3 separate regions of the Homo sapiens genome follow, and all the other regions are linked to region 3. Evidence: fine-mapped expression QTL. A gene starts in region 3. Each other region holds a variant in brackets. All regions are shown on one strand. Distances are between the middles of the regions. Region 1 has its middle 36 kb from the start of PRKAR2B. Region 2 has its middle 69 kb from the start of PRKAR2B. Region 3 holds the start of PRKAR2B (protein kinase cAMP-dependent type II regulatory subunit beta).

Region 1 (8,183 bases), 37 kb after region 3:
GAACTCATAAGGATAACTTGCCCACACTTTGAGAACTGCTGCTCTAAACTGTCTCTAATTACTGTATGATCTTTAATGCTTCAGTTTCTCTTTTTGTAAAAAATGGGCAAACAATAGTATATCAAAGTGTTCTGAAACTTTAACATGAAAAATGCTACAGTGATAGGCAGAAATCTACACCTGTACATAAAATAGGAAAACACTTCCTTTGGGGCATGTTGGAGACATGATGCTGCCCCCAACATGATTACTAAACAAATTGGTGGCCAGGCACCGTGGCTCATGCCTGTAATCCCAACATTCTGGGAGGCTGAGGAGGGAGGATCACTGGAGCTCAGGAGTCCAAGACCAGCCTGGGCAACATGATAAGATGTTGTCTCTTTAAAAACTAAAAAATAAAATTAGCCAGGCATATTGTGGACCCAGCTACTCAAGAGGCTGAGGCAGGAGAATGACTTGAGCCCAGGAGGTTAAGTCTGCAGTGAACTGTGACAGCACCACTGCACTCCAGCCTGGGCAAGAGAGCAAGATCCTGCCTCAAAACAAAAAACAAAAAACACAGTGGCTCACACCTGTAATCCCAGCACTTTGGGAGGCCAAGGCAGGAGGATCTCAAGGTCAGGAGTTTGAGACCAGTCTGGCCAATAGGGTGAAACCCCGTCTCTATAAAAATACAAAAATTAGCCGGGTGTGGTGTCGGGCACCTGTCGTCCCAGCTACTTGGGAGGCTGAGGCAGGAGAATCACTTGAACCTGGGAGGCGGAGGTTGCAATGAGCTGAGATAATGCCAGTGCACTCTAGCCTGGGTGACAGAGTGAGAATCCGTCTCAAAAACAAAAAACAAAAAAACAAAAAAACAAACAACAAACCATATTGGTTTACCAACATAGTTTATAAAGCAAGTTACTCTTTGCAATAGACATTTAGGTTTCACACATAACCACTGCAACACAAAATTGGGAATTTTCCAAATAAAATCAAGACAGTTCTTCATGTAGTTTTGGTAAAAATAATTTTTTTCAGGAGCATAAGGTATGAATTCTGGCTCAATTTCAAAATGGAGGCATATTTCTCTGAAACCCGCTGCCTAGTTATCTTGGCATTGTTTGCTGTGTAAAATGGACTCATGCTTCATTTCTTGGAAAATGTTGAATGTGTCTCGTTTTAACTTAATGAGGTCAGGGAGGAACTAATCACTAAGGGACTTTTTGTTTGTTTGTTTGTTTGTTTGAGATGGAGTCTCGCTCTGTTGCCCAGGCTGGAGTGCAGTGGCACGATCTCGGCTCACTGCAATCTCTGCCTCCCAGGTTCAAGCCATTCTCCTGCCTCAGCCTCCCGAGTAGCTGGGACTACAGGTGCCTGCCACCACGCCCGGCTAATTTTTTGTATTTTTAGTAGAGACGGGGTTTCACCGTGTTAGCCAGGATGGTCTCGATCTCCTGACCTTGTGATCCGCCCGCCTCGGCCTCCCAAAGAGCTGAGATTACAGGCGTGAGCCACCACGCCCGGCCCACTATGGGACATTTTTAAGTCAGAATATAAAGTTTCTCATGGTAGACCTCATAATGAAGTCTGTGTACCGCAACTGATCCACTATAAGATATGATGATTGTCATATAACATTCTCTACAGTGGTTTTGATTGTGTGCACTTGGAGTTGAGGTGTAAAACTGGAATGTTTGCATCCTTCATGGGACCTATTTCACAACAATGCACATTCTGCTTAATCAGATACAGTGACTCAGTCTGTAGAGGAGGGATTTGGGGGCAGGATGGCACAGAATCCTGTCTTTAATCCCCACCCAGAAGTCAGTAGCCTGTCCATCCTTATAAAAGCCTCATGGTGGACTCGGTGTGGTGCTCACGCCTGTAATCCCAGCACTTTGGGAGGCCGAGGTGGGCGGATTACTTGAGGCCAGCCTGACCAACATGGTGCAACTTTGTCACTACTAAAAATACAAAAATTAACTGGGCATCATGGCGCATGCCTGTAATCCCAGCTACTTGGGAGGTTGAGGCAGGAGAATCGCTTCAACCTGGGAGGTGGAGGTTGCAGTGAGCCAATATCATGCCACTGCACTCCAGCCTGGGCGACAAAGTGAGACTCTGTCTCAAAAAAAAAAAAAAAAAAAGCGTCATGCTGGTGACTCTTGTCTTTTTAGGGCCAACGGTATTTTTCTTCCATCTGCCCCAGATCCGGATTTTATCTCAACATGCATCCCGTGGTGTTGAAGAGTAGTTGCAGTCTGAATTTCAGAGAGACTGAGTTGTGTTTGCATTTGGAAAAGGGAGATAATGGTCAATAGGAATGGATGAGGACAAAATGAAAATGGATATGAAAGTGCTTTGAAAACACTTTATGCTTCATGTAAGTTAAAGAATTGTTTTTATTTTTATGCCTAAACCCTCCTTATTGTGAGGTATTGCGGCAAACAGGGACGCACCAGGCCTGGAGGTTTTTTGTTTTGTTTTGTTTTTCATTTGCTTCTATCGGTCTAGGGAAAAAGAACATGCTGGATCCTTCACAGATCTTCTTATGCTAATCCTCTCTGTGGAGTTCTTGGTGTTGACATTGGCTATAAAGCCAGTTGTTGATCCGCACCCCTTCTTTTGTCATAAATGAAAAGTACAATCTGGTACTGAACATTTTTATCTCCCTGTATAATCTGATGACTTGTTCTGCCAGGAAAAATTGATTGCAGCATTCATTATCAATGACTTTATTTTTCAAGTTTTTATACTTCTTTGATATCTAAAAGTAGCTAATAAAATCACCGAAGATACACTTGATGAGAATATATCAAACACTTTAGCATGCACATCCAACATTTTAAAAATCCTCTGTTAATTATTTTTTCAGTTTATAGTAATCAGGAGCTTGGCATTGAAATGATCTCTGAACTTAGAAATTGGTTCTTGAGTGAAACCTCAACTTCTTTGTGTTTAATTAGATTTCAGTTGCTCCACTTAAAAAAGGTCACCTAAATTTGGAAAAGACAACCAATTCTAATTGTGACAATCTAATGCCTGCTGAATTTTCTTAGAAAGGTTAAAGTCCTTTTTTCCATTCACTTGGTAGCATTTATCCAGGATTTTTTTTTTTTTTTTTTTTTTTTTTTTTTTTTTTTTTTTGAGATGGAGTCTCGCTCTGTCGCCCAGGCTGGAGTGCAGTGGCGCAGTCTTGGCGCAGTCTTGGCTCACTGCAAGCTCCGCCTCCTGGGTTCACGCCATTCTCCTGCCTAAGCCTCCGGAGTAGCTGGGACTACAGACGCCCGCCACCACGCTCGGCTAATTTTTTGTATTTTTAGTAGAGCCGGGGTTTCACCATGTTAGCCAGGATGGTCTCGATCTCCTGACCTCATGATCCACCCTCCTCGGCCTCCCAAAGTGTTGAGACTACCGGGATGAGCCACCGCGACCAGCCGCATTTACCCATACTTTCACCACAGCACACCAAAAAAAATCTTGAGTCCTCAAAAAAAAGGTAATTATATTTTAATGGATTAGGCTTTGATTCCTTCTCAGCGGCTTTATCAGCTTGCTGTGTGCAAATATTTCAGACTATGTGCACCTAGTTTTCTTTGTGGTAATAATAAAACTGTGTTTCCCACGGGTCTATTAGAGGTGCTGTAGATTGAATAAGAAAATGTCTATAAAGGACCAGGCGCAGTGGCTCATGCTTGTAATCCCAGCACTTTGGGAGGCCGAGGTGGGTGGATCACCTGAGGTCAGGAGTTCGAGACCAGCCTGACCAACATGGTGAAACCCAATCTCTACTAAAAATACAAAAATTAGCCAGGCATGGTGGCACACACCTGTGGTCCCAGCTACTAGGGAGGCTGAGGCAGAAGAATCACTTGAACTCAGGAGGCAGAGGTTGCAGTGAGCTGAGATCCCACCTCTGCACTCCAGCCTGGGTAAGAAAGCAAAACTCCATCTCAGAAAAAAAAAAAAAAAAAAAAAAAAGAAAGAAAATGTCTATAAAGCTCTTAGAGTGGCCGGGCACTGTGGCTTACGCCTGTAATACCAGCACTTTGGGAGGCCAAGCCAGGCGCATTACCTGAGGTCAGGAGTTCGAGACCAGCCTGGCCAACATGGTGAAACCCCGTCGCTACTAAAAATACAAAAAAATTAACCGGGCCTAGTGGTGCACACCTGTAATCCCAGCTACTTGGGAGGCTGAGGCAGGAGAATCACTTGAACCGGGGAAGCGGAGCTTGCAGTGAGCCGAGATTGCACTATTGCACTCCAGCCTGGGTGACAAAAGGGAAACTCTGTCTAAAATTAAAAAAAAAAAAAGTTTTTAGAGTATCTAGAGATAGCTGGGTCATACGTGAAAGTGTGTGTTTCTAGAGAGCCAAGGTAGAATAAGATGGGTGACTCAAGGAGAGAGCTCAATAGGAGTCAAGGCAGGGGAACTTGAAAGGAGCCCTGAGAAATGTGGGCTGGAGTTGCATGGGCTTCCTGAGCTGCCATGCTTCCCGTGACAGTATAAAGCTGTCAGGCTGCATAGTATTCATAGCATTCCTTGGTTCCCATGGAAAATGGAGGCCAGTTCTAGATTATGGCTGAGAACTAGATAAAAGGTTCCAGATGTTCTGTGAACCATGTCAACTTAGTTTACATACAGATATTGAGCAAAATGAGAAAAATATTTTAGCTAAAGATTATAACCCAGAACATCTCATATGGACCATGATTCAAACACAAACTGAATTCCCTTTTTATTTTTATTTTTTTGACTCCCAACAATGTATAAGTAGCCAGGTATTTTTTTTTAAAAGCAAGTATCACCTTCATTTTTGTGGCCTTTCTCACATAGCTGCATGGAAATTTCAACTATGATGGAACTATTGCAATACTGTTTTTCCTTACTGCTGGAAGTATCACTGAATGAGTTTTGCATTACAGTAAAATAACACCCTGAGCTGTCATGTTCCCATAGTTGTCTCTGAAAGTAAAAGCTGTGATCACATCCAAGTTTAGAAGTAGGGGAAGAGGGACCGAGATAGGGAAGGCTATCGAAGCTGCCACTGTTGTAACTGCTGCTGCAGTCACACTGATAAAGACAAGGGGAAGCAGGCCAGCCT[G/T]AGATTCTGGGCCTTAAAGCCCTGGCTCTACCAGCAGGAGAGAAAAATAGCAGCTCTGAAGGATTTATCAGAAAACTTTTTTAAGAACAATGTTATGGAAGATGAACTGGTCTCGTATCTCCAGCGTTTCTGGCAAAAACAGCTTCCACTCTTACCTCAGGTAGAATGACCACACTAAGAATTTAAGACATCTCATAGGGATATCTGTCCAAAGCCTCTACGATGTGAGTCATTGTCAGAATTTTTAGGAAAAGACAGTTGACTGAATAATGAACTTTCAGGAAGGCATTTACTAACCTTCAGTTATGGGGGACTTGCAGAAAATGACCTTTTATCTCCACATCTAGCTAACACACTAATTCCTTTGAAGGACTCATTATAGAATGCTTTTCTGTTCACGGTGAGGACATTTTCAGGGCTGAGGGACCTAGCTACAACACATGGCTCAAGAGAAGCTAGCTAGTGATTTTTCCCTCTTATGTTTTCTCCTTACTCAATAGTCCTTATTCTCTTTTTTAAACTGTTGTCAAGAAATAATTTAATCAACTCGTTTCTCCAAAGAAGCAGAAAAAGCAAATAACGAAAAAGGTTCCATGTGTTTTCTTTCTCAGGGGTATTTTCATTAGGGAACTAAGGAATGAAACACTGCATACAGAATTGCAAGCATCAGCTAGCCCAGTGGGGAGGTATTTGGGCAGCAAGCCAAACGTCGCCCATTCTACATAATTGTCCCTCTCCTTTTTATTTTTTATTTTTATTTATTTATTTTTTGAGGCGGAGTCTCACTCTGTCGCCCAGGCTTGGCTCACTGCAAGCTCCGCCTCCCAGGTTCACGCCATTCTCCTGCCTCAGCCTCCCGAGTAGCTGGGACTGCAGGCACCAGCCACCATGCCCGGCTAATTTTTTTAAAAAATATTTTTAGTAGAGATGGGGTTTCACCGCGTTAGCCAGGATGGTCTCGATCTCCTGACCTCGTGATCCACCCACCTCAGCCTCCCAAAGTGCTGGGATTACAGGCGTGAGCCACCGCGCCCGGCCGTCCCTCTCCCTCATAACATGGTAGACCTGAAGGGTTCCTGCTAACACGGTAGACATCTCTCTTACAGCCACTTCAGAAATCACAGCTGGGGGCGGGTGCAGTGGCTAACACCTGTAATCCCAGCACTTTGGGAGGTCGAGGTGGGTGGACCTCGAGGTCAGGAGTTCAAGACCAGCCTGGCCAAGATGGTGAAACCCCATCTCCACTAAAAATACAAAAAATTAGCTGGGCGTGGTGGCAGGCGCCTGTAGTCCCAGCTACTCGGGAGGCTGAGGCAGGAGAATGGCGTGAACCCGGGAGGTGGAGCTTGCAGTGAGCTGAGATAGTGCCACTGCACTCCAGCCTGGGCGACAGAGCGAGACTCCGTCTCAAAAAAAAAAAAAAAAAAAAAAAAAAGATTTGGGGCCAATGTAACTTTACAGCAATTATACAACAGTTCCCAAGCTGAAGCCTACCTTTGGACAGGGTGGAGGCATCATACCTGGGAGAGAGGTCCTTGCCAAAGAGGGTCTCTGCCTTTCCTCAGGATGATTGCTATAAAGAAAGCAAATGGGCTGGGTGCGGTGGCTTATGCCTGTAATCCCAGCACTTTGTGAGGCGGAGGTGGGTGGATCACTTGAGGTCAGGAGTTCGAGACCAGCCTGGTCAACATGGCGAAACCCCGTCTCTACTAAAAATGCAAAAATTAGCCAGGTGTGGTGGTGCATGCCTGTAGTCCCAGCTACTTGGGAGGCTGAGGCATGATAATCGCTTGAACCCGGGAGGCAGAGGTTGCAGTGACCCGAGATAGCGCCACTCTACTCCAACCTAGGGGACAGAGCAAGACTCTATCTCAAAGAAAAAGGAAAGCAAATAGAAAAATTGTATTACATAAATTACAGTAAGGAATACCAATGCAACATTAAATATGAAACTGCCCTCCTTCCATTATTTATTCGGAAAATGCAAGACTTTCTTCATAGTAATGTCCCCCCTAATTGTATATCATGGACTAATTTGTCTTACTTTGCATCCTTGTGAAGCTTGTCAACTAACATCAGAGGGAGCCCCCCAAAAGGAGTGTGCAGATTGCATGGAGTCGTTGTATCAAAATCTCTGCACACCGTTTCTCTATTTCCCTGACAAACCTAACAATCAAGGACACCTGTTCTTTCTAATGTTATAATCCTACCCCGTAACTGACACTGTGGATGCTTCAGGTTGAAAAATTAGAAGTCACATTGTTTTTGAGGGAATATGGTTTACAATAAATGCCATTACAGACATTTGAATAAAATGTTTTTGGAACGGAAAGAAGGAAATAATCAACTCTAAGGGGAAGGAAATTATATTGACAGTAACAATAATAATGGTAGCTACTATTTATTCAGCTATTCAGTTAGGCCTCAAATGTACACTAGTCCTTCATTTTGAGACAGAAATGTTCTGTTTCAAATGGGGGAGGAGAGTAGGAGACAATTCTCTGCCAATGTTGCTGTTGATTGAATAATGAACTTTCAGGAAGGCATTTATTAACCTTTTTGTCTCACCTGCTTCACCTGTATAATGCGGGTGATATTAGTGTATCACAAGTTTCATAGGAAAACTTCAAATAAAAACAAATGCATAGAAGCACTAATCTGTTTCCTGATAAATAGTAGTGAGCATCAGTAAAGGTATTGCTCTGTGTGTTGACATTGCCAATATGTCTTGGCATTGGTTATGGGTGTTGAAATACGTTACATAAGCTTTTTTGGAGGTGAATTTTGGCTTTTTGAAATACTGGCACATTTTTAGTAACTTAGAATTGAAAAGGTTCAAATACACTTTTTTTTTTAACAGATGCAGAAATAGAGGGTTAAACAGAGAAAATGACTTGCACAAGGTGATATTGCTGGAAAAAAAGTGGACCCAAAGTATGAGTTTGGATCTGTCTAATATCAAAATCCGTGTTCTTTCTACTGTCACATCGCATCTCACCAACAATGCTGTTTTTTTGTTTGTGTGTGTGTGTGTTTGTTTTTTAGACAGAGTCTCGTTCTGTTACCCAGGCTGGAGTGCAGTGGCGTGATCTT
Region 2 (8,183 bases), 70 kb after region 3:
AAGTTCACGGAAGCATGGCAAGGCTCCCCGTTGCCTCCCTTTTATTTTAGGGAGGCCTTTCTGGAGTTCCATGACCTTGCTAGCCCTGCAAAGATGCCTTTTATGCTCCAAATCAGAAAAAAACATACACTAGCATACAAGGCTATGATTTTACTACCCAGAAAGCTACATCTCTCAGACCTGCCTGGGTTTACAGCCTGGAAATTCTTATTGCATCGGCTCTGGGAAAAAAATCTCACTTATCTAAGCTGATGCTTCTGGGGTGAGTTTTCCATTCACGTCCACTAGGGACAATGGCCCACTATGCATTCAGATCTTTCCAGGGGTCAGACACACTTCCGTCAGTAATGGCTGCCCATTCTGGTGGTGACTTCACACAGCAAAGGGAAAGACAAGAGTAACAGCAATTCTGGAGAAAAGAAGCTTCTAATACACTCCACAAAGGAGGGAGGGCTCCAGGCCGTGTTCCCTTTAAAATATATATTTTTGGTGCTAATGAAAAATAACAAAATAAACTGGCACAACAGGTGACTTTATATAGCTTAAACTAATTTCCAATTGCTATGAGGTGTACTAAAGGTCGTAGTAAGGATATCTATAATGTATTCTCTTTAATTTTATGTATGTTAATTACAAATGCCTGGATTTCCAACATTGAGGAATATAGGTTGCCTTTAAAATTGTGATTTTTCGTAGCTGTTTTGGTTTTCATGTTGATAAACTTTTAAAAATGCCATCAGCAGTCTAAGACATGACTTTCTGTACTCGGAGGCTAAAGACGTGGTGACAGTTTTTCTGCTTTCTAACTCCCCCTATCTTTTTGGAACAGGCTGTGACTGTGGGCGGACTATTCTGATACCATTGCTTTGGCTGTGCGGTATTTTGCAGCTTAAAAGTAAAAGTTCTCTCTGTTATCATTGAACATGCATCCTTGCTAAACACACAATGGATGTTCTGTAGATATAAATGAGTTCCTTCAATTCTGATGTTTCAGTTCAATGGCTCTCAAATTTCAGCATGCATTTACATCACCTGGGAAGAGTTCTAAAATGCACACATCTAGTGTTACCTACAGAGTATATGATTCAGCAGGCTGGGTTGGGTATCAAGGATCTGCATTAATCTGTGGCCTGAGGACTGCATTCTGAAGACAAATCATTACCTTAGGGCAGAGTTTCTCAACCTCAGCACTATTGCCATTATGGTTGGATGATATTTGTTGTGAGGGCTGTTGTCTGCATTGCAGGATGTTTAACAGCACCCGTAGCCTCTCCCCACGAGATGCCACTAACATTTTAATCCTCCTCCCACTTGTGACAACCAAAAATGTCTCCTGGAGTGGTGGATTTGAGAACCAATGCCTTAGAATCTTTGTCCTTCCCAACTCAAATGTCCTGGCCACCTGAGCATTCTTGTGACGAATTTGTGTATGGGGCTCTTGTCCCAAACATATTTTTCTTTTCTTTCTTTCTTTTTTTTTGAGACAAAGTCTTGCTCTGTTGACCAGACTGGAGGGCAGTGGTGCGATCTCGGCTTACCACAACCTCTACCTCCTGGGTTCAAGCGATTCTTCTGCCTCAGTCTCCCAAGTAGCTGGGACTACAGGTGCATACCACTGCACCTGGCTAATTTTTGTATTTGTAGTAGAGATGGGGTTTCACTATGTTGGCCAGGCTGGTCTCGAACTCCTGACCTTGTGATCCACCCACCTCAGCCTCTCAAAGTGCTGGGATTACAGGCGTGAGCCACCACACCCAGACTCCAAACTTAGTTTTCTTAGGAAGCTGTATGATAAAATGAGGGTTTTCTTAGTCACTTAGAGCTTAAACTAAGGGCACATGACCATTACCAACCCCCCAGACAACTTTTATTTGACCAGAACAGATTTGGTTCATTATTAAAATGAGTTACTAACATTTGCAACTTGAGATATATCCATTTTTAAAATTTTCTTGAAAATTCAGGAGATCTGATCACACGGGCCCACACTCCTATGAATAGATTCTGGGCGTGGTGTCTCGTGCATGTAACCCCAGCACTTTGGGAGGCCAAGGTGGGTGGATCACTTGAGTCCAGGAGTTCAAGACCAGCCTGGGCAACATAGTGAAAGCTCATCTCTACAAAAAATAAAATTTAGTCGGGCATGGTGGCTCATGCCTGTAGTTGCAGCTACTTCGGAGGCTGGGGTGGGGGGATGGCTTGATCATCCCATTGTGTTCTGGCCTGGGCAACAGCGTGAGAAGCTGTCTCAAAAAAAAAAAAAAAAAAAATCAGACGGACTGGACTAGGGGAAGAGCTGCACCTAGAGAGCCAGATGTGCTCTCCAGTTGCCCAAGTCCCCACGTGTCCGACCTCACTCATGTACAGTACCTGTCTGGCTCCTAAGGGCACTGGATTTACAATTCTTGGTTTAAAGTTTCATAGCCACTAGCTAAGAATGCAGCATTCCTTATGGAACAATTCTACTAGGGTTGGCAATGTTGGTGCTAACTCTTGAATGTATTCAAAGATTACTTTGATTGCAAGGCAATGGGCCAAGTGTTTTAATCTCCTATGATCACGATATCTTCTCATTTTATGATACATTTATGTGGAGTTTTATGTGTTTTCCCTTTCTGGAGCAAAACTTGGATCATAGGCACTCAGCCTCCTTTGCACATTCCACGAATGCTTTTGTTGTTTAGGAACACAACTCGGTGTGTCTGTTGAGAATTCTCTCTCAAGTGTTAGTTCTTGATCTGGCTAATGGATCATTTCTAGGAAACAGAGAAACAAAGGAAAAATAGGTGTGTGATGCACTCCCAGCCACACTGTCTCTCATCCCACCTGAAATAACAATGTCATATGTAATGATTAGAGACTGAGAGTTGCATGGAGGAAATGTCATGGTGGGGAGGGCTGGCTTCTTGGGCATGCAGCCTATGCCTGTGAAGGTCCTGGGCTTGGTTTAACGCTCTGTTGCTGCCATCTTGAAATTCTTAAGAATTTTTGAACTGTAAGTCCTGCAATTTCATTTTGCACTGAGATCCACAAATTATGTGGTTAGGCCTGTCTAAAAGAGGGATTTAAAACTTTATTATCGTGGGAGGTGAAGAGTGTTCAAAAATGTTAGTTCAGGAATTTCATTACTGTAAAGAGAAACAGCATCCTTTTCCCTTTCTGAGATAGGGATTCCACTTATTCAGAAAATTAACAAACAAATTCTGAAAACCGCTGTGTGTGAATTGCTAGGAGGCAAGAAAATACAGATAATAAGGAGGGCAGTATGGTGTTGTGGAGGCAGGTATGAATGGATTTTAATGAACTTAGACAAATCACACAATTTCTCCTCTTATTTATGCCTCTGTTTCTTGTGCCATCAATTTTCAGCATTACCTATTAAGTCTCAGCTTAATAAAAAGATGTTGGTGCTCCCATTTTTTTTAAGCTTTCCTCCTCCTTCCATGGCCCTTTTTTTTCCTTACCTGTAAGAAAAAAAGGCCTCCTTCTATGGCCTTAGTTTCTTACCTGTAAAGTGAGGATAATAGTTCTGACATTAAGAAGTTTTAGGATTTTTTTTTTTTTTTTGAGACGGAGTCTCGCTCTGTCACCCAAGATAGTTGTGAGAGCCTAGTGCAGTGTCTGACACATAGTTGGCCCTCACTATATGGCAGTTCTATTAATATTAATATGGGCCTTTGCTCTCAAGGAGTCTAGAATCTAGAAGGGGAGATAGATATATTAAATCATGGCAGTAGAACCTGGTGCATTAGTTGGCTCAGGCCACCATAACAAAATATCATAGACTGGGTATTTCTTAAACAGTAGAAATTAATTTTCTCAGAGTTTTGAGAAGTCTGAGATCACAGTGCCAGCATTGTCAGGTTCTGGTGAGGGCTCTCTTTCTGGCTGGCAGACACCCACCATCTCGCTGTGTCCTCACATGGTAGAGAGACAGTTCTGGTGTCTCTTCCTCTTCTTATAAGGGCACCAGTTCTAACAGATCAGGGCTCTACCCTTATGCCCTCATTTAACCTTAATCCACCCCCAACTCCCCGAAGGCTATCTCCAATACAGTCGCATGGAAGTGAGTATTAGAGCTTCAACATATGAATCTGGGCATGGGGTGAGTGGGACAAAATTCAGTCCATAGCATCTGATATAAGTACAACTAGGGCATAAATGAAAGTGCCCTGCTCAGCCAGGCATGGTGACTTACGCCTGTAATCCCAGCACTTTGGGAGGCCGAGGTGGGCGGATCACCTGAGGTGAGGAGTTCATGACCAGCCTGGCCAACATGGTGAAACCCCATCTCTACTAAAAATACAAAAATTAGCCGGGCGCCATGGTGGGCGTCTGTAGTCCCAGCTACTCGGGAGGCTGAGGCAGGAGAACCACTTGAGCTCGTGAGGCGGAGGTTGAGAGATGGTGCCACTGCACTCCAGCCTGGGCAACAGAGCGAGACTCTGTCTCCAAAATAAATAAATAAATAAATAAAT[A/T]AATTAATTAATTAATTTAAAAAAGCAAGTGCCCTGTGCTGCTGGTGGGAGCAGGGGAGGGGACATCAGAGAAGGTTTTACAGAAGAGATGATTTCTGAAATACATCTTACAATTTTTTAGTCAAAAAAGTATATATTCAAGAAAACAAATCAAAGAACATAGAGGAGTTTTTAATTAAAAATAATAGGCAGGGCGCAATGGCTCATGCCTGTAATCCCAGCACTTTGGGAGTCCGAGGTGGGCGGATCACCTGAGGTCAGGAGTTTGAGACCAGCCTGGCCAACATGGTGAAACCCCATCTTTACTAAAAATACAAAAAAATTATCTGGACGTGGTAGCACGTGCCTGTAATCCCAGCTACTTGAGGCACGAGAATTGCTTGAACTCAGGAGGCGGAGTTTGCAGTGAACCGAGATCGTGCCACTGCACTCCAGCCTGGGCAACAGAGTGAGACTCTGTCTCAAAAAAAAAAAAAAAAAAAAAAAAAAAAATTCTTCCCACCTCTGTCTAGCCTCAGATCTATTTTCCACAGTCAATGGTATGGACCAAATATTTGTATTCTTCCAAAATTCCTATGTTGAAACCCTAATCCCCAGTGGGATGCTGTTTGGAGATGGGGCCTTTGGGAGGTGATTAATTTGTGGGGGTGGAGCTCTCATGATGGGATTCATGCTCTTACAAGAAGAGACATGAGACAGCTTGCTTTCCCTCTCTTTCCCTTCGCCATGATTAGATGGCCCTCTTCAAATCCAGAAGAAGGATGTCATCAGATATGGGATCTACGAGCACCTTGATCTTGTACTTCCCAGCCTCCAAAACTGTTGAGAGATAAATGTTTGTTGTTTAAGGCACCCAGTCTATGGTAGCTGGTTATAGCAGCCTGAACTGCCTAAATCAACATTCAAAAAAGATTTCTGTTGTAACTGTTCTCATATTTGACGTTCTCCTTTACTCCTTTCAATGCTGGATGTCTATCTTGTGCCATATTTTTCTTTCAGCTTTTCCATTGATTACCTTTGTGAGTATGAATTATTTATGCCTCTATTTCTTGTGCCATCAACTCTAAGCACTTTCTATTGAGTCTTAGCTTAATAAAAAGATGTTGGTGCCCCCGTTCTTTTTTCTAGCTTTCCTCCTTCTTCCATGGCACCCCCCCTTTTTTTTGTCAATTACCTTTTTGCATGATCAAGATTACCTATTTGTATTCTGCTCTGCTACCACAGTCCAGTCTTCCTTGCAAGTCAAAAAAGCAGCTTTTGTGTTATTAGTCCTGTGCAAATGCTGGCTCAAGTTACATGCTAGAAACACTTTACTTCTTTACTGGTCCAAATGATACATTCAGGATCAGTAGGACAATTTCTTTTCCTCAAGGTCAAATGAATTTTCTCTTCTTACAATTAAAAAATGTCTTAAAACAATTATGCATTTGAGCTGGCTACATATTTAGATTTCTTTTTCTTGTCGAGTTTTATTTTAAAATTTCTAAATGTACTCCTCTCTGTTTTCTTCTTAAAGCCCTGGCTTCAACAAATCCTTTCCATCATATCATCTGTTAAGATTATTTCATCTTTTCCATCAGTATCACCTTTTTAGGCCAGGCGGGGTGGCTCACGCCTGTAATCTCAACCCTTTGGGAGGCCATGGCAGGCAGATCACTTGAGGCCAGGAATTTGAGACCAGCCCGGCCAACATGGTGAAACCCTGTTTCTACTAAAAGTACAAAAAATTAGCCAGGCGTGGTGGTGTACACCTGTAATCCCAGCTCCTCAGGAGGCTGAGGCATGAGAACTGCTTGAACTCAGGAGGCAGACTGCAGTGAGCCAAGATTGTGCCACTGCATTCCAGCCTGGGCGACACAGCAAGACTTTCTCTAAAACAAAAAACAAAAAACAAAAACAAAAAAACACTAGATAAAATTTGGATTGCAGAGGGAAGAAAAAGGCAGAGAGACAGAGACAGGACTAGCTGGATTTCCTAGGCCGACTAAGAATTCCTAAGCCTAGCTGGGGAAGGTGACCACACCCACCTTTAAACAAGCGGCTTGTAACTCAGCTCACACCTGACCAATCAGGTAGTAAAGAGGGCTCACTAAATTACAAATTAGGCTAAAAGCAGGAGGTAAAGAAATAGTCAAATTATATATTGCCTGCGAACACAGGGGGCAGGACAATGATTGAGATATAAACCCCAGGCATTCGAGCGGGGAGTGGGCAGCCCCCTTTGGGTCCCCTCCCGTTGCATGGGAGCTCTGTTTTCTCTCTATTAAATCTTGCAACTGTACACTCTTCTGGTCCATGTTTGTTCCAGCTCAAGCTGAGCTTTTGCTTGCAATCTACCACTGCTGATCCCTGCGGTTGCAGACCCGCCACTGACTTTCACCCCTCCGGATCCGGCCAGGTGTCTGCTGCGCTCCTGATCCAGCCAGGCGCCCATTGCTGCTCCAGATCGGGCTAAAGGCTTGCCATTGTTCCTACATAAGTGCTGGGGTTCGACCTAATCGAGCCGAACACTAGTCGCTGGGTTCCACCATTCTCTTCCGTGACCCATGACTTCTAATAGAGCTGTAACACTCACTGCATGGCCCAAGGTTCCATTCCTTAGAATCCGTGAGGCCAAGAAACCCAGGTCGGAGAACAAAAGGCTTGCCGCCATCTTGGGAGCCACTCGCCACCAACTTGGGAGCTCCAAGAACAAAGACCCCCGGTAACAAGACCACTTGGAGACAGGAATAAAGAAAACATCATGGCTTGAACTGCCTCCCAGGTTCAGGTGATTTTCCCACCTCAGCCTCCCGAGAAGCTGGGATTACAGGCATATGCCAACACACCTGGCTAATTTTTGTAATTTTGGTAGAGATGAGGTTTCACTATGTTGGCCCAGTTGGTCTCAAACTCCTGACCTCAAGTGATCTGCTCCCTCGGCCTCCCAAAATGCTGAGATTACAGGCGTGAGCCACTGCTACCAGCCTATGTAGTTTTTTTTTTTTTTTTTTTTTTTTTTTGAGACAGAGGCTTGCTCTGTCGCCCAGGCTGGAGTACAGTGGCACCATCTCGGCTCACTGCAAGCTCTGCCTCCCAGGTTCATGCCATTCTCCTGCCTCAGTCTGCCAAGAAGCTGGGACTACAGGCGGCTGCCACCATGCCTGGCTAATTTTTTTGTATTTTTAGTAGAGACGGGGTTTCACTGTGTTAGCCAGGATGGTCTCGATCTTCTGATCTCATGGTCCACCCACCTCAGCCTCCCAAAGCGCTGGGATTACAGGTCTGAGCCACGGCACCTGGCCCAGCCTATGTAGTCTTTAGAGTGGAAAAACTAACTCTGCAATCATGCAGACATATCCTTTGGCTAAATATCTCACCCTTTTAATTTTATAGTCTCTGTTACTGCTTCCAAAGTGGGTGACTTATTCCTATCTGAGTAGAACTGAATAGAAGAATAAAAAGACCCTAGGGGTGCAAGTGGGAAAAAAAATAGTCTTTCCAACTCTATTTAGCTTTAAATCTATAAATCTATTTTACACCTAGGGGTGTAAAGAGGGAGAGAAACACACAGGAAACATATGATTAATGTTTCAAGATATAATCCCACCACAACTGGTGGAATATTATTTTTCCTTAGACTTTTGAAAGTAGAAGTCCAATTTTTTTTAGCACCCACTGTTAACCAATGAGAAATCAGATGCCGGTATGGCTTGTTCTTTTGTG
Region 3 (8,183 bases):
ACCACTTGTCCATTTATCAGAGTAATCTGAATGGTATTTACTTCATTTTTTGTTTCAGCAATTCCACTGAAGAAATTATGGGGCAACACAAGATCTCTTGATGATGCCTATATAAAATCATGAATTACCACAGATTTTACTCCAAACTAGTACTGATGCAATGCTATAGCCTACCGTAAACCTTCTAAGAAATTCAAGGCCTAGGGATGCTACCCTTTCAGACATGACATGTCAAACTGTATTTGCTTTCTCTAGGACGGGGAAGAGGGAGACAGAGTAGATGCCAAGAGGTTTCCATTATGGCTTCTTTCTGGCCTTTGAGAGTTTCCCTAGAAAGGGTCACCATAAGCCACTATCATTCTAACATCTAAAGCTTGCTCTTTCGACCAGAATTGATAGCAAATGGAAAGTAACAATTAGAATTTATAAGACTGGAAGAGAATAGGAGAGGGAAAAGAAAGCTATTAGAAGAGGAAGGGATCCTTTGGAAAGGTAGGAAAGAAGATGACCTTCACCCATCTGACTGTTTGCTCTAGCGCCACCTACAGCCACACCACCTGACCCTCAAAAATCACCGACCCCTGGCCAGACAACATTTTTTCCAGCTAACTGCAGGTGCCTGGCTTATTTGATTAAACCACCACATTATAAGGTCAAGGTCACATGCTTGATCCCTACGTTTGTCCTACGTTTGTCAATGGGCACAAGTTGCATGGTCAAAAACTTGCCTTTTAACTCCAACCTCTCATAAATACCATCACTTACGTTAAAGACATTCACAAGAGAGGATATGAACCAACAATGCAAATCCATCAGCATTACTAAAAGAAAAAAAAACAGGAAAACCTGACTTGTGAGTCAGCCCACAGAACAAATTCCATTTAAGAACTCCCTGATCATCCTGGGCTTCAAGGTTAGATACATAAGAGTAAGAAATCAGGCTTCCCTACTTACTCGTTTTATGTGTGACCTTGGACAAGTTAATTTTTCAGAGCTTTAACAATAAAACACATTAAGGGTCCCAAATAGAGCTTGACATATAAGGGATACTCAGGTTATGCTAGCCCCAGCCCCATCTGGAGATAGAATCGGGCAGTCAAGAGCACAGGGATGAAGCCAGGTCCACCTGTATCCCAATCTTGATTTTGCAGCTCACGTGAAACACTGGGCAAGTGATGGCCTTATCGTTCTCATAAAGCTGAGACAAAAAAATTAAAGCATTTAGACAGCACACAGCAATTGTCAACTAACGGCAATTATGTTTTAAATGTTAAGAAGAATATAGTATTATCACTATCTGTTAATGTTTTCCAAAGTACAGTCATGGAACTATTGATATCAGAATGACCTGGGTGGGATGTCTACTGAGGGGGAAGAAAAGGATATCATGTCCCATCTCAACCTATTTAAAAAAGCTCTCCAAAAATGGTACAGGGTAATGGTCATTTCTGAATCAAACTTCCTTGAGATATCTATGAAAATTTCAGAATTACTGACCCAGCAGGTCTTGTGCTGTGTCATAGTAAATTAAGACTTGTTTTCCAATCCTTATTCTTTACTATGCCAGAATTGCCCAGTATCTGGGGTTCTTTTCTAATGAGACACATTTCTGGACATAGATGTCAAACTGATAGGCTCATACTTTTTAGGATCACTCCTGTTTTTTCCCCCAATGGTACTATTTTGACTTTTTTTTTTTTCTTCTAACCAGGGGTCGGCAAGCTATGGCCTTGATCTGCAGCTAATTTTGTACAACCGCAACCCTCAGAAGGTGTATGTGTTTAAAAAAAAAAACTGAAGAAGAAGTGATCAAGACCACATGTTGCCCTAAGTCTAAAACACTTACTAACCGGCCCTTTACAAGAAACCTTGCCAATCACTTTGTAGCCTATAATTAAATGTTTTTCAACTGGAGGTCTCAATACAATTTAAAATAGGGAGAAATAACTGATTCAAATAGGAAATATCAAAAAGCACTGCATCTGACAGAAGGAAGTACCTGTACTATTGCCAAAGTTTCTGTTATACAGATGTATGTGCCTCCTGGATAATGATCAAATTGTATTTGGTTGCAGTCAAAAAGTTTTAAAGTCCTTGGGGGTGAGGCTAGGGAGTAAATAGTGCAATTGTTTAACAAGTTTAACTTGTTTAAGTCACACTGAGCAATTTTTACAGCAAAGGTGCCTTGGAGAATATAAAGCCATATAAAATGACCCCTGCTGTTCAGAAGTTAACGGCTTATTTCTTCACTACAAAATGAAAATGGAATCTTTTCTGTGCGCAATATATTGTTATAAGGAGAAAATGCAATCATCAATGCAAAGTACTTCAACAAATGCATTATACAAACAAAATATTTTGATTATATTAACAACATATCATACAGAATATATATATATATATGGTCTTTACCAAGCCCCTTAGTTCCTAGTTTTCTCCAACCTGGGAAAAGAGTCCTTTTTTTCCCCTTTGTGTGTGTGCACGAACATGTCAGGAGCATAAAAGAAGTATTAGATATCTCTGCCCTTTCTGTCATCCGTTACTGGCTGCTGCTTCTTACCTATTTAAAACATGCATTCTTTTCTCTTTCTCGTTTCTGGTAGGAAAAGCTTTTGATTCGATTCTTGTGCAAAAAGAATTATTAAGACTATGTTTATCCTCTTGGGGAAACATTTAGAAGTCCAAAATTAAAATTGTAAGTAACAAGCTTCACTTTTATCTTCACAGCGCACTAATTTCCAGGGTTTCTGGGATTCTTTTGGAGAAACTAAAAATACACTAATTTTATAATCCATTTCAACATGTAATCCTGCAAAGAAAAGAAACATCTTCCTAGGAGCATACACAAGGAAATGAAATGACACTTTTAAATGTTTTCATTTTATGAAATACACTGCGGACACACAAACCACAAGCAGTGTAAATAAATAAAAGCTGGTGCAATGCTGCATGCATGTTTGCCTTACACCACAAAGAGAAAACACTTGCACACTGCACTCCATGGTATTTTAGCTTGGGTTGCCATAAAAATGAGATTTGGGCATGTTGTGTAATACAAGGGGCTGTAAATGAGGGTGTGTGTCTGGGTGTGTTAGGGAAAGAGGGTTGTAAGCAGAAGGGGTGGGACTTGCCAGGAGCAGCTATTTGAGAAAATTCCTTTTTCTTTCCCATTCATTCTTTCTAGCTCTACTGTCTGGCACAATCCTTACAATTACTCACTGGCTTTTCATTCTAAAGACAACCAACAAGCTTTCAGAACTTCCTACAGTGTTTTTCTCATACACTTTTAAAAAAATAAAGCACCAAATCATTCAATATGTCTTTTATATAAAAAGCAAACCATTAACCCATTTCCTCGTTCCAAAGACCCCCGTGGGTTTCAGACTAAATAGAATCCTTTGTTACGTGTCCAAAAATAACACAACACGGTATTGGTAAATTGGAAAATAATAGATAACTCTTATTTCCAAGAATGTCAGAGCTACTGGCCATAAATTTTGTTCTGCCCCAGTGAGTCCAATTTCATGCTTCTTTTAGCGAATCTACCGTCCTAACAACAGTAAAGCCAATCATATTAAACACGGTTCTCCTTTTCTCTTTCGACATTCCATTAATAAATACAAGGGCTGAAAGAAGACGCCAAGCGGGCCAGTTTCTTTATGCACAATGGTATCCTCTAAGCGAAATACCTCCAACCACAGCGAAAGTTGTCTTTCTAGCAGATGCCCACCCCAACCGGCCCAGGCAGAGGGGGCAAAGGGTAAGAGGGAAGCGTAACATCCCAGCTCTCCCACCTCTAGAGGAAGGGAAGAGGGTATGACAGAGAGCGGAGTAGGAAGGTGGGCGAGTGGGAGAGACAGAAATGGATGCTGAGGGGGTGGGCGAGATGGGAAGGTAGGGAAAGGTGGAGAATGCGGGGAGAGGTGGGTGCGCAAAGCGGCAAGATCCGAGAGCACAGCGGGGAGCGGTGGGGGGCAGCGAGGGGATCCGGGGGCGCGAAGTGGGGGGTCTGGTCCTCACCATTGAACGCCCCTGCGTCCGCGGGCGCCGCCTCCTCCTCCTCCCCGTCCTCGGAGTCGGACTGCATGGGCTCCTCGGCGAAGTTGACCCCCTTGCTGGGGGTGCCGCCCCCGGCAGCGGCGCCCAGGTCCCCCCAGGTCCTGCCCTCATGGCCGAAGCGCGCGGTGCCTTTGCGCTCGTTCTCCTGCTGCAGGCGGGTGAAGTGCTGCAGCGCGAACTCCAGCAGGTCCGCGGGCTGGTGCCTCAGCACCTCCACCGTGAAGCCCTGCAGCAGCTCCGTCAGTCCCGCCGGGATCTCGATGCTCATCCTGCCTCCGGGGCGGCAGGCGCCTGGGCGCCGCCCTCGCCCCCTCCCCGGCACGGCCTAGGGCCCCGCGGCTGCCGAGCGAGCGCCTACGGCGCTGGCGCGCTACCGGCTGCGAGCGCGGCGCACTGGGCCCCGGCGGCCCGGCTGGCCCGGCCCGCGGCTCCCGGCGCGCGTCTGCTCCGTGTGGTGGCGGCGGCTGAGCGAGCGCGGCCCCGGGAGGGCTGGCAGCATCTCCTGCTCCTCCCGCTCCAGCCGCGGCCGCGCCTCTCCCCCGCCCGGGCGCCCCGCCCCCGCCCCGCCGCGGTGCGCGGGAGGGGGCGCAGGAGAGCGCGCCCACGTGACCCCCGGAAACCATGGCAACCTCCGCTGGCTGGCGCCGCGCACCCGCCTGTCAGACCACCGCAGGGCTGCGCGCCCGGGCCGGGAGAGGCGGAGGGAGGCCCAGCGAGGCCGCCTTCGTGTCCACCTGTCCGCGCGTCCAGGAGCGGGCTGGCCACTCGCCCCGCTTCCCAGGCGTCATTCGCCATGGTGAACCCCCGCAGAGGTGGTGCCAGGAGATTTGTCTTGAAACTTCAGCCTCCACCTTAGTAGTGGCATTTTATTTTCCTTCTAGAATCTAGTTGCATGATAAGTGTTGCTAATGTCCTTTGTTTAAAGTCTTATGGTGGTACTGGTTCTCTTTTGGACAAAGAAATGCTACCCCATCTTTGTGACGTCTTTCTTTTTCTTCCCCACATTTTATCCAGCCTTTCCCGATCCATCCTGTTTATTATGTTTCGTCTTACTGATGCTATTCCGTTGTGCACTCCACGCATTTACTATTTATTGAGACAAAGGCACCATTTATTGAGAGGCACCTATCAAAGTTAGTTGATCTCTTTTAAATAGGATAGTGCAGGATGAGGCGCTTATTATTTTGAAACTTTCCTTTATGCTTTGAATGATTTTTGACTTGTATGTCCAAAAATTGAAATACTTCAGTATAAAGAAAAATAGAATTACTAATGTGTGCTTTTAAAGTAGAAGGCTTTGACTTTGAAATGAGGCTTACTTTGCAAATGTTTACAATTTTGAAGTAGAGAAAATTGTCTTTTGTCAATTAAATTCTATTTAAGTACGCATACTTCATTTTCTACAATTATCATATCATTGTAAATAAAATATTTCAAGAGCAAGCTCACTTGGTTATTCTGATTTATCTTCCCACCCACGGAAGAGTAAACACATGACTGGGGAAACTCCAAGTCTAGAAATCAGAGATGTAACGAACTAGTCCCTCTTGTAAAAATGGATCTTGATGTTAACCCTTTGTTAATGATGCATCCTGTATTGACTCCATGAGCCAATGTATTTCTCTATTTTCATTTCTTAACAACTTTATAGTAATAATGTTACGTTGCTTTAAATATACAGTAGTTAAGTGCTTCTAATTGTGTCGAGCATTTTAAGAATTAAACTTTTGGCCGGGCGCAGTGGCTCACTCATGCCTGTAATCCCAACACTTTGAGAGGCCGAGGTGGGCGGATCACCTGAGGTCAGGAGTTCAAGACCAGCCTGGCCAACATGGTGAAACCCCATCTCTACTAAAAATACAAAAATTAGCGGGCATGGTGGCAGGCACCTGTAATCCCAGCTACTCAGGAGGCTTAGGCAGAAGAATCGCTTGAATCCAGGAGGCGGAGGTTGCAGTCAACCGAGATCGTGCAGTGCCGTTGCACTCCAGGCTGGGGGACAAGAGTGAGACTTCGTCTCAAAAAAAAAAAAAAAGAATTAAACTTTTATAAAATATGGTGAGCCTCACATGTCACCGGTTGGAGCACAATGTTAGTACTACTCTCTACCGTGTAAGCATTATTATTTTTACGGATCTGGTAATCTAAGATGCATGTGTATCACCTGTCTAAATTTGTGATAATATTTGTATTAATTATGATAAACACTGCTCACATGTGGCAGAAAATGCGAAATACAATAGCTTAAGATTTATTTCTCTGGAATCTAAATGTGGGCAGTTCAGAGTTGGTATTGAGAGGTGATAGCGTGCTGGCAGTCCTCACAGCCCGCACTCGCTCTTGGCGCCTCCTCTACCTGGGCTCCCACTTTGGCAGCGCTTGAGGAGCCCTTCAGCCTGCCGCTGCACTGTGGGAGCCCCTTTCTGGGCTGGCCAAGGCCTGAGCCAGCTCCCTCAGCTTGCGGGGAGGTGTGGAGGGAGAGGCGCGGACGGGAACTGGGGCTGCGCGTGGTGCTTGTGGGCCAGCGCGAGTTCCGGGTGGGCGTGGGCTCGGCAGACCCCGCACTCGGAGCGGCCGGCCGGACCCACCGGCCCCGGGCAGTCAGGGGCTTAGCACCTGGGCTAGCAGCTGCTGTGCTCAATTTCTCGCAGGCCTTAGCTGCCTTCCCGCGGGGCAGGGCTCGGGACCTGCAGCCCGCCATGCCTGAGCCTCCCCCCCACTCCGTGGGCTCCTGTGCGGCCCGAGCCTCCCCGACGACCGCCGCCCCCTGCTTCACGGCGCCCAGTCCCATCGACCACCCAAGGGCTGAGGAGCGCAGGCGCACAGCGCGGGACTGGCAGGCAGCTCCACCTGCAGCCCCAGTGCGGGATCCACTGGGTGAAGCCAGCTGGGCTCCTGAGTCTGGTGGGGACGTGGAGAACCTTTGTGTCTAGCTAAGGGATTGTAAATACACCAATCGGCACTATGTATCTAGCTCAAGGTTTGTAAACACACCAATCAGCACCCTGTGTCTAGCTCAGGGTTTGTGAATGCACTAATCGCCACTCTGTATCTAGCTATTCTGGTGGGGACGTGGAGATCCTTTGTGTGGACCCTCTGTATCTAGCTAATCTGGTGGGACATGGAGAACCTTTGTGTCTAGCTCAGGGATTGTAAACACACCAATCAGTGCCCTGTCAAAACAGACCACTGGGCTCTACCAATCAGCAGGATGTGTGTGGGGCCAGATAAGAGAATAAAAGGAGGCTGCCTGAGCCAGTGGTGGCAACCAGCTCGGGTCCCCTTCCACAGTGTGGAAGCTTTGTTCTTTTGCTCTTTGCAATAAATCTTGCTACTGCTCACTCTTTGCGTCCACACTGCCTTTATGAGCTGTAACACTCACCATGAAGGTCTGCAGCTTCACTCCTGAAGCCAGCGAGACCACGAGCCCACCGGGAGGAACTCCAGATGCGCCGCCTTAAGAGCTGTAACACTCACCGCGAAGGTCCGCAGCTTCACTCCTGAGCCAGTGAGACCACGAACCCACCAGAAGGAAGAAACTCCGAACACATCCGAACATCAGAAGGAACAAACTCTGGACACGCCACTTTTAAGAACCGTAACACTCACCGCGAGGGTCTGCGGCTTCATTCTTGAAGTCAGTGAGACCAAGAACCCACCAATTCCGGACACAGTGTGGTACTCCATGATCATCAGGGACCCAGGCTCCCTCCAGCTCATTGCTCTATGATCCTGTCTGTGGTCCAAAATGGCTGCTCCAGGGCCAGTCATATTTTAGCTAAGAGGAAAGTGAAAAAGAGAAGGGAAGCTCCCCTCCCCTCCCTTCCTTCTAGGAAGTTAAACACAATTCCTCTTCTATCCTCTTGGCTAGAACTTAGTCAACATGGCCACACCTTTGGTGTGGCAAATTGCATTTTCCAAAGACGGCTACAACAATATCTCCTACAGTGTGGCGTGGCCACTACTCACTAATGAATTGAAGTCTTATTTCCCCTCCCCTTGAATCTGAATGTGCTTGTGATTTCTTTGACCAATAGAACATTGTAAAAGTCAAGTCAGCATGATAGAAGAAGCCAGCCCTGTACTGGATGCCCTGGCTGAAGCCTTGTTCCACAGAATCTGTG

Evidence for each region. PIP is the estimated chance that this variant, and not a neighbour inherited with it, causes the effect.
Region 1: its variant is fine-mapped to the expression of PRKAR2B in whole blood (TOPMed, PIP 0.95).
Region 2: its variant is fine-mapped to the expression of PRKAR2B in whole blood (INTERVAL, PIP above 0.99).

Annotation. Positions count from the first base shown.
Region 1 is chr7:107,004,392-107,012,574 of GRCh38, reverse strand. No RefSeq gene overlaps it. Among named protein-coding and RNA genes, the nearest start is that of PRKAR2B, 36 kb to the left of the region's middle. RefSeq lists cis regulatory regions at 2,192-2,315, 2,048-2,516, 4,801-5,567. The variant G/T (reference allele first, on the strand shown) is at 5,091.
Region 2 is chr7:106,971,426-106,979,608 of GRCh38, reverse strand. No RefSeq gene overlaps it. Among named protein-coding and RNA genes, the nearest start is that of PRKAR2B, 69 kb to the left of the region's middle. RefSeq lists cis regulatory regions at 139-452, 624-1,295. The variant A/T (reference allele first, on the strand shown) is at 4,479.
Region 3 is chr7:107,041,052-107,049,234 of GRCh38, reverse strand. PRKAR2B (protein kinase cAMP-dependent type II regulatory subunit beta) reads right to left here and starts at 4,530. Exons shown (of 11, transcript NM_002736.3): 1 at 4,021-4,530. The coding sequence starts at 4,327. RefSeq lists silencers at 4,137-4,431, 4,218-4,777.